Regions from separate parts of the Homo sapiens genome. Here region 2 is linked to region 1. Evidence: fine-mapped expression QTL. A gene starts in region 1. The other region holds a variant in brackets. All regions are shown on one strand. Distances are between the middles of the regions. Region 1 holds the start of NUDT1 (nudix hydrolase 1). Region 2 has its middle 40 kb from the start of ELFN1-AS1.

What was found. PIP is the estimated chance that this variant, and not a neighbour inherited with it, causes the effect.
Region 2: its variant is the best candidate, but not a certain one, in a credible set for the expression of NUDT1 in whole blood (TOPMed, PIP 0.73).

What each region holds. Positions count from the first base shown.
Region 1 is chr7:2,237,132-2,245,987 of GRCh38, forward strand. It overlaps NUDT1 (nudix hydrolase 1), which reads left to right and starts at 5,095. Exons shown (of 4, transcript NM_002452.4): 1 at 5,095-5,125; 2 at 7,432-7,595. The coding sequence starts at 7,444. It overlaps MRM2 (mitochondrial rRNA methyltransferase 2), which reads right to left and starts at 5,074. Exons shown (of 3, transcript NM_013393.3): 1 at 5,031-5,074; 2 at 2,287-2,576. The coding sequence starts at 5,038. RefSeq lists enhancers at 1-883, 169-568, 3,607-4,458, 8,825-8,856 and a silencer at 4,781-5,000.
Region 2 is chr7:1,778,377-1,787,232 of GRCh38, forward strand. No RefSeq gene overlaps it. Among named protein-coding and RNA genes, the nearest start is that of ELFN1-AS1, 40 kb to the left of the region's middle. The variant G/A (reference allele first, on the strand shown) is at 3,871.

The sequences.
Region 1 (8,856 bases):
AAGGAGCTAGGACCACAGGAACATGCCACCACACCTGGCTAATTTTTTGTAGAGACGGGGGTTTCACCATATTGCCCAGGCTGGTCTCGAACTCCTGACCTCAGGTGATCCTCCCCTTGGCCTCCCAAAGTACTGGGATTACAGGTGTGAGCCACTGCGCCCGGCCTCACGCCTCACTTTATGCTCCTGAGCTTTCACTCCTATAATATCCAGTATGTTACAACCTTCGGAAATTTCCACCGAAGGCAAACAGCTTTGGCTGCATGCTTGTGACTTCCGGGAGGACAAGCCCAGGCAGATCACGCTCACGCTCTCTCCTTCTGTCACTTCCTCCTACAAGGCACGCTGGGCCACTCTCCTGCTTCATCTCAAGAGCACTTAGGGGAACAGAAACCACTGAAATCAGTTACTAGGAGGACTCCACGGTGATAAGCTCAGCAATGAGAAAAGGAACTGACATTTCCAACACAAATTCACTTATTTAGTCAATAAATGTTGAGCTGAAAAACAATAAAAAGGCTTTCAGGCTGACCACGATGGAAGCACCAGGAAGCACCTCGAGGATGCTGGGAGGCAGAGGCGGGCGGATCACCTGAGGCCTGGAGTTCGAGACCAGCCTGGCCAACATGGCAAAACCTCATCTCTACTAAACATACAAAAATTAGCCGGAAATCACTTAAACACAGGAGGCAAAGATTACAGTGAGCCGAGATGGCGCCATTGCACTCCAGCCTGGGCAACAGAGTGAGGCTCTATAAACAAAAAAAAAAAAAAAAAAAAAAAATGCTGTTGAAAAGCCCGAAGAGGCATATCCCCGCCTAAGTATGGGCAGGGGCCACCCAAGGGGATGCAGGTAGACACCAAGAGTTCATGGCAAACCTACCGCAAACCAGCAGCGAGGCAGATGTGCAGATCCAGGGGGCCAGCATTCCATTTCTGCACTTTCAACAAGTCATGAAACCCTGAGCCTGTTTTCTCACCAATAAATGGGGACCAGTGTCCCTACTCTAAGGTATTTGGGAGAGACTTGGGAGAGCTCTGGGTGGACTGTCTCACCCTGTTCAAATGCCAGTGCATGCAGCTACCCTGGCTTTACAGCAGGAAACATAAATGGCAAGGATATTCACCACAGCACACGCATCCCAGCCAAAAGCCAAAAGCAACCTTGATGCCACAGTGAGGGAGCTGGTTAAAGAACCTACGGTGCAAGCACTACATGGAATAGGATGAAACTTTCCCAATGACGACAGTGTCTTCAGTTGCATGGGCGGTTGGCTGATCTCATTATTCAGGAGAACCTTTTTATATAGAAAATCTTACTCAAAACCCTAAGATACAAAACAGATGAAAACTGTGTCTCAGCTTCATCCAGAGCAAAGAATCCATAGCCCTGGCCATGAAGCCTCTTCTAGGTTCCGGACGGAGCAGCCCCAGTGGGGCCACCAGGAAAGCCCCAGGGCTTATGCGACTTGGAAATTTAGCTGTGCTGTTGGGGAAAGATGTCAATACATCATTAAGAGTAGCCGGGCACCATGGCTCACATCTGTAATCCCAGCACTTTGGGAGGCCGAGGTGGGCAGATCACCTGAGGTCAAGAGTTCGAGATCAGCCTAGCCAACATAGTGAAACCCTATCTCTACTTAAAAAAACAAAAAGAAAAAATTAGCTGGGTGCGGTGGCGGGCGCCTGTAATCCCAGCTACTTGGGAGGCTGAGGCAGGAGAATCGCTTGAACCAGGTAGGCAGAGGTTGCAGTGAGCCGAGATCACACCATTGCACTGCAGCCTGGGCAAGAGTGAGACTCCATCTGGAGGGGGGGGAAGAACAAAAATAATAACAATAATAATTATATATATATATATATATATATATATATATATATATATATATATATATATAATACATATATGTATGTATCATTAAGCAAAAATAGCTCCAATAGGCTGCAAATTAGCAAGAAAAGTATGGCACAACATCGCTTTTGAAAATGTGAGGGATCTATGCATGCACAAGCCTGGAAGGATGCACACCACCATGCTGGTGCTGGTACCTGCGGGCGGTCTCATGCGAGGTGATTTCCATGTTCACTGCACCTTTCTACCTTGTCTTTCATTTTGAAAATGGCAGCATCCTATTTTTATCATCACCATTGCTAAACCACCCACTCGGAAGCACACGCCTTCAAAAAAGGGCTCCACCATCCCGCATCCACTGGCAAAGGCAGCTTGCCCATGCCCACTCAGCCTCAGGGGAGCCAGAAGGTGCCAACAGCAGTGCAGAGGCCCACCTGTGCCTGCGGCGTTGACCTTCTGCACCGCCACCTGACTCCAGGCCCCAGGAGCTGCCCCACAGTCTAACACCCGAAGGCCGGGCCGCAGAATCTGGTGCCTCTCGTTCACCTCCAGGAGCTTGAAGGCGCTTCGACACCGGTAACTCTCCACCTTCGCAGCCTTCACAAATGGGTCCCTGAGATGTCGGGTCAGCCACAGGTGCTCAGCGCCTGTCCGATTCTTGCAGCGACTCCCAACAGTGTGGAACCCTTGACGCTGAAAGGAAACACACACCAGCTTCAAGTACCTGGTGGGAGAGAAGAGGAGCAGGCAGGTTGGCATCACACAGAACGGCAGGTCATGAGCTGGGAGGGCCCTCGGATCAACTCATTCATTTCTAGAGATGGGGCACCAAGGCCCAGGAGGGGAGGTGAACTGATAAGGCTACACAGATGGAAAGCAGGCATCACAGGCCAAACTGTGTCCCCGCAAAATTAATGTGTTGATGTCCTAACCCTTGGTACCTCAGAATATGGGGGTATTCGGAGACACCTGTAATTCCAGCACTTTTGGAGGCCAAGACAGGTGGATCCCCTGAGGTCAGGATTTCGAGACCAGCCTGGCCAACCGTGGCCAACATGATGAAACCCCGTCTCTACTAAAATGCAAAAATTAGCCTGGCGTGGTGGCAGATGCCTATAAACCCAGCTACTCGGGAGGCTGAAGCAGGAGAATCGCCTGAACCCAGGAGGCAGAGGTTGCAGTGAGCCGAGATTGCGCCACTGCACTCCAGCCTGGGCGACAGAGCGAGACTCTGTCTCAAACAATAACTAAATACATCAATTAATTAATTAAAGTAATATTATTTTCTCATCTGGCAAAAATGTTCATTGGGCTCTGACAGGCTGCAAGAAAACCTCATAAGGACAGATCCTTGCCTTAGTGACCTAGTTCCAGGGCTTTGACAGCTAGTACAGAGGGTCTGGCCTGTCACATTTCTTTTTTTCTTCTTTTTTTCGAGACAGGGTCTCGCTCTATAGCCCAGGCTGGAGTGCAGTGGTGAGGTCACGGTTCAACGCAGATTCGAACTCCTGGGCTCAAACAATCCTCTCACCTACATGTCTTAAATAAAATTGAACTAAACCTGTGTCAATCGTTGAAGGACAATTTCCAAGATTCTCTAGACAATTGTTACAATAAATGTAACAATTTATTCACAGCCCACAATAGCTAAGCAGGTGGAAGCTATACACACCTCCCCTTGTTTAACTCTGACAACAACCTCACCAAGGAAGTTCTATGTCCTCTTTTTCTTTTTTTAAGACGGAGTCTCACTCTGGCGCCCAGGCTGGAGTGCAGTGACAGCTCACTGCAGCCTCCGACTCCCGGGTTCAAGCAATTCTCCTGCCCCAGCCTCCCAAGTAGCTGGGATTACAGGCACACCTGCTACCATGTCCGGCTAATGTTTGTATTTTCAGTATAGATGGGTTCCACCATGTTGGCCAGGCTGGTCTCAAACTCCTGACCTCCGCTGATCTGCCCGCCTTGGCCTCCCAAAGTGCTGGGATTACAGGTGTAAGCCACTGCACCCAGGCATTTCTTTCTTCTTTTTGTTTTTTTAGAGACAGGGTTTTACTATTACCCAGGCTGGAGTGCAGTGGCATGATCACAGCTGACTGCAGCCACAGCCTCTGGGGCTCAAGTGAACCTCCCACCTCAGCCTCCTGAGTAGCTGAGACTACAGGTGTGTGCCACCACTTCCGGCTAATTTTTCTATTTTCAGTAGAGATGGGATTTCACCATGTTGGCCGAGCTGGTCTCGAACTCCTGACCTCTGGCGATCAGCCCACCTTGGCCTCCCAAAGTGCTGGGATTACAGGCGTGAACCACCTCACCCGGCCATTTTTGTTTTGCTATCATCCAGGCTGGAGTTGCAGTGGCACAATCACAGCTGATTGCTGCCATAACCTCTGGGTCTCAAGTGAACCTCCCACCTCAGCCTCCTGAGTAGCTGGGACTACAGGTGTGCACCACCATGCCTGGGCTAATTTTTTTTTTTTTTTTAATTCTTAAAAACCTTTTTTAGAGATGGCATCTCACTACATTGCCTAGGCTGGTCTCGAACTCCTAGGCTCAAACGATCCTCCTGCCTCAGACTTCCAAAGTGCTGGGATGACAGGTGTGGGCCACCAAGCCCGGTCTCTATGTCCATCTTTCTGATTTAAATAAATAAATAAAAGTTACCACCCTCATGGCTCCAAGGCCAAAGCTTCTAGCTTCTGCAACACCAAAGCGTGCTGACAAGCCAGGAGGCACTGACTGCTGACCGTGAGTCGCTGTCTTCCCCTCGCTTAAGGGGTCTCCCGGGAAAATGGCACAAGCCGGTCCCGGGGGCCAGGGCCCACTCGACAGCCCAGGAAGCGCGGGCAATGGAGCTACCCGGCCCAGAAGCGAAATCCCGCCCCGGGCTCGCCCCCGGCGCCTTGGATCTGGGCCCCGGCGCTGCGCCCCCCACCTGGACTCCGCCGCCGGCCCCGGCCTCCCCACGGCCCCGCCGGCCCTGCCCCTGGAGACCTGAGGGCGCCCTCCTCCCGGGGAACTGCGACCCGGAATCCTGGCCTCGCCCCTGTCGCGCTCGCTGAGTGCGGGGACGGTGCCCAGCGCTCGGCACCCAGCCCCGAGGCCAGGACCGAGGAAGGCGACCGGGCGGACCCCCAACCACTCCCGCTGTCTGCACGCGCAGCAGCAGCGCCCAGCTCACCCCGCCATTGGTGTTCCCCGCGCCTGCAGCGCGCCGCCGGAAGTGCCTGGCCTCACTTCCGGTCAGAGGCCACGCCCCCGGAAGCGGCGGTGCAGGTACGAAAAGCGCGCGCGGGGATTCCAGGAGTCGTGGTGACCAGGGAGGGGAGCCGGGCCAGCGGGCGGCAGGAGACTAGGGGAGCTGAGCCATGGGCTTGGGGGAGAGCGGGGCCGGGAGCTCGAAGGAGACCAGAAGAGCAGGGTCGGGGGCTCGAGGGAGACGAGGAGAGCGGGGCCGGGGGTTTGGGAGAGAGACAAGGAGAGCGGGGCGGAGGCTTGGGGGAGACCAGGAGTAAATCACAAAAATTTACTTTGGAAACCGTGGCTTCTGGCAGAAACAGATCAGTGTCGGGACAAAGTACACGGGCCTGGTGTGAAACTAAGCCACAAACCCATTTACCCTGTCTGACCTGCCTCCGCCACCAGGACCCAGTCTCAGTGAAATGGGAAAGGTTCCCTTGTCCTCCTCGAAGGGCGTGCGATGAGGATGTGGCTCACTTCTTCAGTGCCCCGCTTCTCAAGCCTCTAGGGGAACATACAGACAGGCAGGCTGAGGGGCTCCCACCCCACGGCAGTGTCTAGGGGTGAATGTTTGCAGCTCCTGAAGCCCCAGCAGGCATGTGTTAGAGGGTGCTCTTTCAGTTTAGCCTTGTAGGTGGCTTGTGTTAGTCAGCTGTTAGACTCCCTGCCTTATCGCAAGGACAGAGGGCTTTCTGTATCCCTAGGTTTCTTGCCTTGATGTACTGGAGCAATCAGATCACACGGCGGCTTGGAGAGTGAGTGCAAGGTTTTATGAGTGGAATTAGCCCTCAGCAGATGGGGGAGCCAGAAGGCAGTTGGAGTGGGAAGGTGATTTTCCCCTGGAGTCGGGCTGCTGAGCAGCCTGGGCTCTCCTCTGACCGCCCCTGCCAAACTCATGGTTCCATCAGTTGATGGCCTGCTGGTGCCTGTTGGTGTGCTTTCCACGTCCTCTTGACGTCCAGCGGCTTGTGTCTCTGCCCACTATAAAAAACCACTGGGGTTTTTTTATAGGCACAGGACGGGGACGTGGCGGGCTCGGGAAATGCAACATTTGGGCAAAAAAACAGAAATGCCTGTCCTCACCCAGGTCCCTGGGCACAGGCCTGGGTGTGGAGCCCTGGCCAGAGACCACGCCCTCCTCTACCCAGCACTTCCCTGCCCCCTTCCTTATCATCTGGTCCCTTTTCTCAGACACCACAACTTCCAAGAAGGATCACTGGTCCTGAACCCTGTGTCTTGTCCAGGTGTGGACCCCAGAAAAGTTGGTCCTGGCTGGGCGCAGTGGCTCACGCCTGTAATCTCAGCACTTTGGGAGGCTGAGGTGGGTGGATCGCTTGAGCTCAGGAGTTCGTGACCAGCCTGGGCAACGTGACAAAACCCCATCTCTACTAAAAATACAGAAATTAGCTGGGTGTGGCGGCTCATGCCTGTGGTCCCAGCTATGTGGGATGCTGAGGCAGGAGGATGGCTTCAGCCAGGGAGGCGGAGGTTACAGTGAACCGCGATCACGCCACTCTCCTCCAGCCTGGGCAACAGAGCAGGATCTTGTCTCAAAATAAATAAAGGAAAGTTGGTCCTGGCCCTCCAGCATTTCTCCAGGGTCCTTTTTTCAGCAGGGACCTGGCGGAGGCATCGCCCTCAGAGTCCTCTGGACCTGGACCTGCACACCTATGGGAGCAGGAAGGACCCTTGTGACTTCCAGTGGCCCCCCTGGGTGCCAGGTCCCACAGTAGCCACAGCAGGAGCAGAGTGGGTGGGGTATAAACTCCTATCACAGGAGGGAGGACTAGCCGGGCCTGGCTGGGTGGACCTGTGTCTACAGCCACACATTTCCTGGGAATCTGGAAGCCTGCTACAGAGAGGCCAGGTCCCACTAGACTGAAAGAAGTTCCTGTTAATCCAAAGGCCTGACCTGAGGACCACAGGATAAACTGCGTGGTTATTTTGGTGCCAATCAGGCACGGGGACTGTTGTTCCTCACTGTGTGCCTATAAGCAGGGGGTTCCTGGGGGTAGACGCAGGAGCAAGAGCACGCTCTGGAAAGGTGATGTTGTCCTCTGCACCTGAGTACTGACTTGTGGAGAAGGAAGGTAGCGCCGGCCTCTGCTCTGCTTGATCAGCCCTGCTGACCACTGGGTTCTGTTTCTACCCCAGAAAATCACTGGTTCAATGGCAGTTTTCCACCTGCCACAAGGGAAGCCACACGTGGCAGGGCTGGGGAGTTACAGCATACCCCCCCGCCCCCCACTGCCTCCCAGAGCACGTCCCCTTCCTCCTGGCCCCTGGCACGTGCTTCCTCCACGCACGTCATGGCTGACTCTGCCCTCTCACCTTCCTTTCAGAACCCAGGGACCATGGGCGCCTCCAGGCTCTATACCCTGGTGCTGGTCCTGCAGCCTCAGCGAGTTCTCCTGGGCATGAAAAAGCGAGGCTTCGGGGCCGGCCGGTGGAATGGCTTTGGGGGCAAAGTGCAAGAAGGAGAGACCATCGAGGATGGGGCTAGGAGGTAAGGATGGGGCAGGTCTGGCCATAGAACCGGCTTTCCCAGGGCACAGGGATTCGGGCTGTAGGGCCACACCCTTGGTTTCACCACTAAGAGCTAAGTGACCTGGAGCAGGGGGTTAAGCGTGAGCCTCAGTGTCTTCATCTCAGAATGAAGAACAGTCCGCAGCCCTTCGGACTCTTGTGAAGATAAAATGAGGAAATGAACTCGAAGGACTTAGAACGGTGCGCGGTGTGCGGTGCGTGCTGAGTGCGTGTTAGCTGTTGTGGTGCGGTGGTGCTGGGGGCTGCAGGGCGTATCTGGAAGCCTCTGTGCAGCAGCTTGAATTGAACCCTCCCAGCACCCTCACTGTTGCCGAAGGGCTCGTCAGTCACTTGGTTCCTCTGTCTGTTCAGTGGAGCTGATGATCGCTTTCATCTCACACTCGCTGTGCACAAAGCCTCACTGCATCCTCAACACAGCCAGCTTCACCTAGGAAGGAACTGAAGCCCAGAGAGGTTGAGCCGTTTACCCAAGATCACACAGTCCTCCAGACGCCCCTCAACCCTCACAGGGTAAATGAGATCATCTGTGTAAACATCGCTGCACAGACGTTAGCCCCCGTTCGTGTTTTTGTTCTGAGAAAGGTAGGCCAGCTTGCCTGGAGAGGAGAACTACAGAGTAAAGAGGGTCCTGGCACGGAGGAAAGCCAGGACGCTGCAGCCTAGTGGCTTTCCAATTTTTTCATCACAACCTGCAGTAAGAAATACGTTTTGTACTCTGATAGAGTGTACACACTCAGGTGTGCAGGTACAGCTAAAGTAAGTTGCAGTAGCCGCCCTTATTACATAAAAGGGGGCTCTACTTTTCCGATTCATTTCTCTTTTTTTCTCCAGAGGTGGGATCTCACCCATGGCACACTCTTGGCTCACTGCAGCCTCAAACTCTTGGGCTCAAACGATCCTCCTGCCTCAGCCTCACGAACAGCTGGGACCACAGGCACATGCCACCACGCTCAGTTCGTTTTTTAATTCTTTGTAGAGATGGTGTCTCATTAACTCCCAGGCTCAAGCGATCCTCCCTCCCGGGCCTCCCAGAGTGCTGAGATTGCAGGTGTGGGCCACTGGCTTGACCCTTTTTTTTTTTTCAATTGCAATCCACTAAGCCGATTTCCCGGGGTACATGGGTCCCAACCCTCAGTTTGGAGAGCCCTGTGTGTGCTTCCCCTCCAAGGCTTGGGACCCCAGACCGCAGCCACACGGACACGTTCGATCAGTCACTGTGG
Region 2 (8,856 bases), 460 kb before region 1:
TCTATCCTGTCCCTTTGACTAGAATGACATAACTCCTTTAGTTACTACAGATTTACAATATGCCCTATGACCTGGGAGGCGAAGTCCCTCCTAGCTTCTTCAAGAGCGTTTTGACTGTTCTTGACTCTGCTCTAAATTCTAGAATCAGTTCATCAAGCTTCATGAAAATCCTGTGTGTTCTTCCAGAAGTCATCGCTGCTATACCATGTGGCTGAGGTTTGGGGTTAAGGAAGTTGTCTTCCCTTTGCTATGCATTTTTATTATGGATACATAGATATTATGTTTTTTTAAATGTTTTTCCTGGCCAGGTGCAGTGCCTCACGCCTATAATTGTAGCACTTTGGGAAGCCGAGGCAGGAGGATCACTTTAGTTCAGGAGTTTGAGACCAGCCTGAGCAACACTGTCTGACCAGTCAGACGTTGGAGACCCTGTCTCCAGTGAAAGTTTAAAAAATACTAGCCAAGCATGGTGGTTGCACACCTGTGATTCCAGATACTTGGGAAGCTGAGGAGGGAGGATCGCTTGAGCCTGGGAAGTCAAGCCTGCAGTGAGCTGTGATTGCACCACTGCACTCCAGCCTGGGTGACACAGAGAGCCCTTGTCTCAAAAAATAAAAACAAAATTAAAAAAGCATTTTTCCTATGCTAGCGAGATGACCAGAGATGTTCCTTCCTTATTCTGTTACTATGGAGAATGTATAAATGTATTTCCTAATGTTAAGGCACCGTTTCAATCCAGGGATAAACTTGATTTGGTCATAATGTGTTACAGATACAGGCACACACATAAAGAGATCATGCTATCACATTATAACCAAATTATATAGATAAAGCACATTATGGGCCAGGCACAGTGGCTCACACCTATAATCCCAGCACTTTGGGAGGCCAAGGCGGGAGGATCGCTTGAGGCCAGGAGTTTGAAACCAGCCTGGGGGCAACATAGCAAGATCCCATCTCTACAAAAAATAAAAAAAAATTAGCCAGGTGTGGTGGCATGCACCTGTAGTCCCAGCTACTTGGGAGGCTGAGGTGGGAGGATCACTTGAGCCCAGGAGTTCAAGGCTGCAGTGAGCTATGATTGTGTCACTGCACTCCAGCCTGGGCAACAGAGTGAGACACTGTTTTTTAGAAAAGCATTATGACCAAATGTATACACAGTCGTGCGCCGCGTAGAAACATTTTGGTCAGTGACTAACTGCACATCCGACAGGGGTCTCATGAGAGATTGTAGTGGATCTGAAGATTCCCTGTCGCCTGGTGCTGTGGTGGCCATCGTCACGTCACCGTGCAGTACGTTACTCGTGTGTGTATGTGTGTGTACGCACCCGTGATGCTGGGGTAAACAAGCCCTCTGCACCACCAGTCATAGGAAAGTCTAGCACATACAATTACGTCCAGTGCACAGTACTTGCAAATGATGATAAACCACTGTGTCACTAGTTCATGTATATACTATCCTATACTTTTTTTTTTTTTTTTTTTTTTGAGATGGAGTCTCACTCTGTCGCCCAGGCTGGAGTGCAGTGGCGCGATCTCGGCTCACTGCAAGCTCTGCCTCCCGGGTTCACGCTATTCTCCCGCCTCAGCCTCCCGAGTAGCTGAGACTACAGGCGCCTGCCACCGCGCCCTGCTAATCTTTTGTGTTTTTAGTAGAGATGGGGTTTCACTGTGTTAGCCAGGATGGTATCGATCTCCTGACCTCATGATCCGCCCGCCTCGGCCTCCCAAAGTGCTGGGATTACAAGCGTGAGCCGCCACACCCGGCCAACTTTTTTATCATGATCTTAGAGTATACTACTACTGATTAAAAACAAAAACAAAGTAACTATAAAGCAGCCTCAGGCAGGTCCTTCAGGAGGGATTGCTGAAGCCCTCCATTGGGACAGGATATGGAGGGGAAGTCAGTGATATTGGCGATCCTGACCCCGTGTAGGCCTAGGCTAATACTGGGCTAATATGTGTGTTTCTGTTTGTAACAAAAAATTTTTTAAGTAGAAAAAAGGGTACAGTGGGTCATGCCTGTAATCCCAGCACTTTGGGAGGCCGAGGCAGGAGGATAACCTGAGGTCAGGAGTTCAAGACCAGCCTGGACAACATGGTGAAACCCCGTCTCTACTAAAAATACAAAAATTAGCCAGGCATAGTGGCATGTGCCTGTAATCCTAGCTTCCCAGGAGGCTGAGGCAGGAGAATTGCTTGAACCTGGGAGGCGGAGGTTGCAGTGAGCTGAGATCGTGCCACTGCACTCCAGCCTGGATGACACAGCGAGACTCCATCAAAAAAAAAAAAAAAAAAAAAAGGTAGAAAAAAGTTTCAAAAATACTAGGTTGGTGCAAAAGTAATTGCAGTTTTTGCCATTAAAAGTAATGGGATTAAAAAGTAATGGTATTATTTTTGCACCAACCTTAATAGAAAAAAACTTACTTACAAAATAAAGAAAGAAAATATTTTTGTACAGCTGTACAACGTGTTTGTGTTTTAAGCTAAGTATTACCAAAAAGTAAAAATTTTTTTAAAGTTTACAAAGTAACAGTAAGCTAAGGTTACTTTATTATTGAAGAAAAAATATTTTTAATAAACAGAGTATAGCTTAAGTATACAGTGTTTATAAAGTCTTCAGTAGGCCAGGAAGGGTGGCTCACACCTATAATCCCAGCATTTTGGGAGGCCGAGGCAGTTGGATCACAAGAAGTCAGGAGTTCGAGACCAGCTTGGCCAACATGGCAAAACCCCATCTCTACTAAAAATACAAAAATTAGCAGGGTTTGATGGTGCACGCCTGTAGTCCCAGCTACTCAGGAGGCTGAGGCAGAAGAATCGCTTGAACCTGGGAAATAGAGGTTGCAGTGAGCCGAGATGGTGCCACTACACTCCAGCCTAGGCGACAGAGCGAGACCCTGTCTCAAAAAAATAGTCTCCAGTGGTGCACAGTAACGTCCCAGGCCTTCACACTCACTCACCCTCTCTCACCGACTCACCCAGAGCAACTTCCACTCCCGCAAGCTCCGTTCGTGCTAAGTGCCATATCAGGTACGCCACTTTAAAGTCACTGATCCTGTGTTTTCACGGCACCTTCTCTGTGTTTAGATGTGTTGAGACATACAGACATACAGTATTGTGCTGCAGTTGCCTGCAGCGTTCAGTGCTGTCACCTGCTGTGCACATTTGGAGCCCTGGAGCCCAGGAGCCACAGGCCACACCGTACAGCCTGGCCATGGGGTAGGCTCTGCCATCTTAGAGTACACTACTGGATCTGTGGAAGGTCACTTACACGTGACGAAATCGTCCAACAACATGCGTGCAGACAAACAGATATGGTGCTATAACATTATAGCAATATGCATATAATATTCTACGCATGTCTCAGAATGTATCCCCAGGGTTGAGCATTGCTTGACGGTACATATAACACTATTGAGGTAGGAGGTGGGAGTCAACTCCAGACCTGATTGAAGACTAGCTAAAACACAGAAGAGGCACTGAAAGCTCTTCTCCCTAAGACAGGCCCACCAGCGCCGCAACAGTTTAGCATTGCCATGGCAACACCCGAAAGTTACCACCCCTTTTCATGGCAGTGACCTGGAAGTTATCATCCCTTTTCTAGAAATTTCTAAATAACTTGCCCTTTAACTTACGTATATTTGAAAGTGAAGTTTGGGCGTAGTGGCTCACAGCTGTAATCCCAGCACTTTGGGAGGACAAGGAGGGCGGATCACTTGAGGTCAGGAGTTTGGCACCAGCCTGGCCAACATGGTGAAACCCTGTCTCCACTAAAAATACAAAAATTAGCCGGGTGTGGTGGCGGGCACCTGTAATCCCGGCTACTCGGGAGGGTGAGGCAGGAGAATCGCTTGAACCCAGGAGGTG[G/A]AGGTTGCAGTGAGCCAAGATAGCACCACTGCACTCCAGCCTGGGTGACAGAGCGAGACTCTGTCTCAAAAAAAAAAAAAGAAAGAAAGAAAGTGGGTGTAGGTATGATTGCAGAACTCCTCCCAAGTTGTTACTCTGGACACACTGCCCGCGGGGTGGCCCTGCCCTGTGGGAACAGCCATGGGGCTGTAACCCCGCCACCTCAGTAAAGCTGCCTCATTCTACCCCACTGCCAGCTTTCCCTTGTAGTCTGTCCTAGGCGAAGCTAAGAACCCTCACCAGCTAAGCCCTACTCTGGGGCTCGCCTGTCCCACATCACTGCTAGATGGTTTGATTTTTGTTGTTGTTGTTTCAGAGATTTTGTGTATATGCTTATTAAAGAGAGTGTCATTAACTTCACTTCTCTTACCACCCTTGTCTATCGGGCACAAGGATTTTCTAATCATCAGAGAATCTGCTCGGGAGCACTCCCTTTGGCTGTCTTTCCTGGAAGACTTTGAATAAGATGGAAATCATCTGTGCCTGGAATGCTTTGCTAGAACTTGCTCACAAAACAAGCTGAGCCTCGTTTTTGTATTGTGAGAAGATTTCTAAAATACTGATTAAATCTTTGTTGTTGTTTATAGTGCGATTCAGGATGTCTCTTCTGAGTCTGTTTTGGGAATTTGTATTTTCCTGGGAATGTGTCCATTTCATCTAATTATCAAATTTATTTGCAAAAAGATGTTCATAATATTCCCTTTTTCTTTTTTTTTTTTTTTCAGATGGAGTCTCACTGTGTCACCCAGGCTGGAGTGCAGTGGTGCAATCTCGGCTCACTGCAACCTCCACCTCCCAGATTCAAGTGATTCTCCTGTCTCAGCCTCTCAAGTAGCTGGGGTTACAGGCAAGTGCCACCAAGCCCAGCTAATTTTTTTTTTTTTTTTTTTTTTGAGACAGAGTCTTGCTCTGTTGCCCAGGCTGGAGTACAGTGGCGGGATCTCGGCTCACTGCAAGCACCACCTCCTGAGTTCATGCCATTCTCCTGCCTCAGCCTCCCGAGTGGCTGGGACTATAGGTGCCTGACACCACGCCCAGCTGATTTTTTATATTTTTAGTAGAGACAGGATTTCACCATATGGGTCAGGCTGGTCTCGAACTCCTGACCTCTGGTGATCTGCCCCCCCCCCCCCCCGCTCAGCCTCCCAAAGTGCTGGGATTACAGGCGTGAGCCACTGCGCCCAGCCCATAATATTCCCTTATTAACTTTTCAGCCTCTACTCTCCTGTGTAGTAATGTTCATTTTCTCTATCCCAATAGTTCTTGTGTTTTCTATTTTTTAAAAAAATTGATTAGTCTTGCTAGAGGTTTAGTTCAGCTATATTAGTTCTTCCAAAAAATCAACTCTATAATTCCTCCCCATTGTATTTTTATTTTCTATTTTATTAATTTCTGGTTGCCTTTATTATCTTCCTTTCATTTTCTTTGGAATTATTTTCCTGTTCTAACTTTTTAAGTTGGGTACTTATTAATTTTTAGGGGATTTTCTTCTAATATATGCGTTTATGACTACAAAGTACTTATCACCATATGGTGTTACAATTCATGATCATTTTTGGTATTTTCACTATTTAGTCTTAAGTATTTCTGAATTTCCATTATGAGACTTTTTTACCCGTGGGTAATTAGAAATATGTTTTTAAATTTCTAGATTTATTAAGATTTTTAGGCTTTAGGTTTCTTTCATTGTTATTGACTTCTAAACTACTTGGCGTTGTGCTCAGAGAATGCTGTTACTATGGTACCAGTCCTTCCAGGTCTATTTAGGTTTGATTGATGGCTGAATATGTAGTCAGTTCTATAATGTTTCTTGGGCCCTGGAGAAGAAAGCATATTCTCCGGTTATTGTATACAGAATCCTATAAATATCTTGCGGATCAAGTTTGTTACTTTGTCGCTCAGATCTTCTAAATCCTTACTGATTTTTATTTGCTTGTTCTATCAATTACTGAAGGAGGCGTGTTAAAATCTCCCTGTGTGCTGCTGGATTGATCAGTTTCTTCTTGTAGCCATTTCTTGTGTAATTTGCTTTCTTTATAAAATTTAAAGTTACCCTAATAGGTACATACACGTTCAGAATTCTTCTGTAGTTCTCCTGAGTCAGCGCCATATTGTGACCTCTTTATCCCTGGCAATGCTTTTTGCATTTTGATCAGAATATTATTTTCCTGGCTGGGCACAGTGGCTCACGCCTGTAATCCCAGCACTTTGGGAGGCCGAGGTGGGTGGATCACCTGATGAGGTTGGGAGTTCGAGACCAGCCTGACCAACGTGGAGAAACCCCGTCTCTACTAAAAATACAAAATTAGCCGGGCTTGGTGGTGCATGCCGGTAATCCTAGTGACTCGGGAGGCTGAGGCAGGAGAATCACTTGAACCCGGGGGTGGAGGTTGCAGTGAGCCGAGATTGTGCCACTGCACTCCAGACTAGGCAACAAGAGCAAACTCCGTCTCCAAAAAAAAAAAAAAAACAAAAACAAAAAGAATATTTTTCATTCTTTTTTCAACCAATCCCTGTACTGTATTTTTTCATTCACCCAATCCCTGTACTGTATTTTTCAACCAATCCCTGTACTGTGTTTTTCAACCAATCCTGTACTGTATTTCAGTCTCACACAAAAAAAAGAATATTTTCATTCTTTTTTCAACCAATCCCTGTACTGTATTTTTTCATTCAACCAATCCCTGTACTGTATTTTTTCAACCAATCCCTGTACTGTATTTTTTCATTCAACCAATCCCTGTACTGTATTTTTCAACCAATCCCTGTACTGTGTTTTTCAACCAATCCTGTACTGTATTTCAGTCTCCAAAAAAAAAAGAATATTTTTCATTCTTTTTTCAACCAATCCCTGTACCATATTTTTTCATTCAACCAATCTCTGTACTGTATTTTTTCATTCAACCAATCCCTGTACTGTATTTTTTCGTTCTTTTTTCAACCAATCCCTGTACTAACATTTTAGGAGTGTCTTTTTTGTTTTTTATTTTTATTATTTATTATTTTATTTTTATTTTTTTGAGACAGAGTCTTGCTCTGTCACCCAGGCTAGAGGGCAGTGGTGCAGTCGCGGCTCACTGCAACCTCCACCTCTCAGGTTCAAGCAATTCTCCTGCCTCAGCCTCCTGAGTAGCTGGGACTACAGGCACCTGCCACTACACCCAACTAATATTTTGTATTTTTAGTAGAGATGGGGTTTCACCATGTTGGCCAGGCTGGTCTCGAACTCCTGACCTCAGGTGATCCACCTGCCTCGGCTGGGATTATAGGCATGAGCCACCACGCCTGGCCGTGGGCATACAATTTTAGAGCTTTTCTTTAACAGTTTTTTTCTGTCTAAACTTGGAAGATAGTTGTTCCTGTTCCTTTTTTGCTTCTTTTATGTGTGATAGGAAGTCGTAGGTGGTCTGTTTGTTGTAGTGTATGGGTGACCTGTATGTTCTCTGGTGCAGCTTTTAAGCCCTGTGTGTCATGTTCTGCAGTTCCACTATGAGGCACCTCTGAATGGATTTCTACTCTTCCTGCTTGGATTCATCTGGGTTTCCTTATCTGAAAGACTATGTCTTTCATTCATTCTAGGAAATCCTTTGCCATTATCCCTCCTGACAGTGCTTCTCTCCTATTCTGTGCAGAATTTCTTTCTGCAGCACCAATTAGCCCTGTGCCGGACCTTCTCCCCTGACCTTCTGTGTCTCAGAGCCTGTCTTTTCACCTCTGATTTTCTTGGTGCTACATTCCCTGTAATATCAACTTCCAGTCTACTAATTCTCCCTTCAGCTGTGTCAGTCTGTGTTCAGCCCTTGTGCTGCAGTCTGTGGATTTTCCGCAGGTCTACCTTCTAGTCTGCCAATTTTTTCTTTTTCTTTTTCTTTTTCTTTTTTTTTTTTTTTTTTTTTTCGAGACAGAGTCTCACTCTGTTGCCCAGGCTGGAGTGCAGTGGCTCAATCTCAGCTCAATCTCAACCTCCATCTCCCGGGTTCAAGTGATTCTCCTGCCTCAACCTTCGAAGTAGCTGGGATTACAGATATGTGCCACCATGTCTGGCTAATTTTTATATTTTTAGTAGTGACAACGTTTTGCCATGTTGGCCAGGCTGATCTCTACCTCCTGATCTCAGGTGATCCACCTGCCTCGACTTCCCAAAGTGCTGGGATTACAGGTGTGAGCCACTGTACCCGGCCCCAATTTTCTAATTCTCTGTTTAGCTGTATTTATCTGCTGTCTAATCTTCCCAGTGATTTAAGATTTATTCATGACTATATTTGTTTTACTTTGTTTCTTTCCTAGTTTTTAAATTCTCTTACTATGTTTTCATTTCCCTATTTCAGGTCTTTAAAAATATTAAACGTTGTGTTTTATATGCTGTTTTCATTAAGACCAATATCCCAGGTCTTTCTGGGCCAAGTTCTATTTGTTATTTGGGCTGATCTTTTACATGGTGTCTTGCTTTCTGGTAGTTTTTTTATTAAAATCATATTATTGTACATATTATATGTAAATATATATTTGAACTTGACCTTGGACATTCTCTAAGGCCTGGGTTGAGGCATATTCCTCCAGAGGAAAATGTGTTTGTTTTGGGCAGGTTCCTGAGGCACTACAAATCCACATTAAATTACAATTCTCAGTTGGGCACGGTGGCTCACGCCTGTAATCCCAACATTTTGGGAGGCCGAGGCAGGCAGATCACCTGAGGTCAGGAGTTCAAGACCAGCCCGGCCAACATGGTGAAACCCCATCTCTACTAAAAATATAAAAATTAGCTGGGTATGGCGGCGGGCACCTGTAATCCCAGCTACTCAGGAGGCTGAGGCAGGAGAATTGCTTGAACCTGGGAGGCAGAGGTTGCAGTGAGCCAAGATTGCACCACTGCACTCCAGCCGGGGTGATAAAGCGAGACTCCATCTCCAAAAAATAAATAAATAAAATTAATTACAATTCTCACCT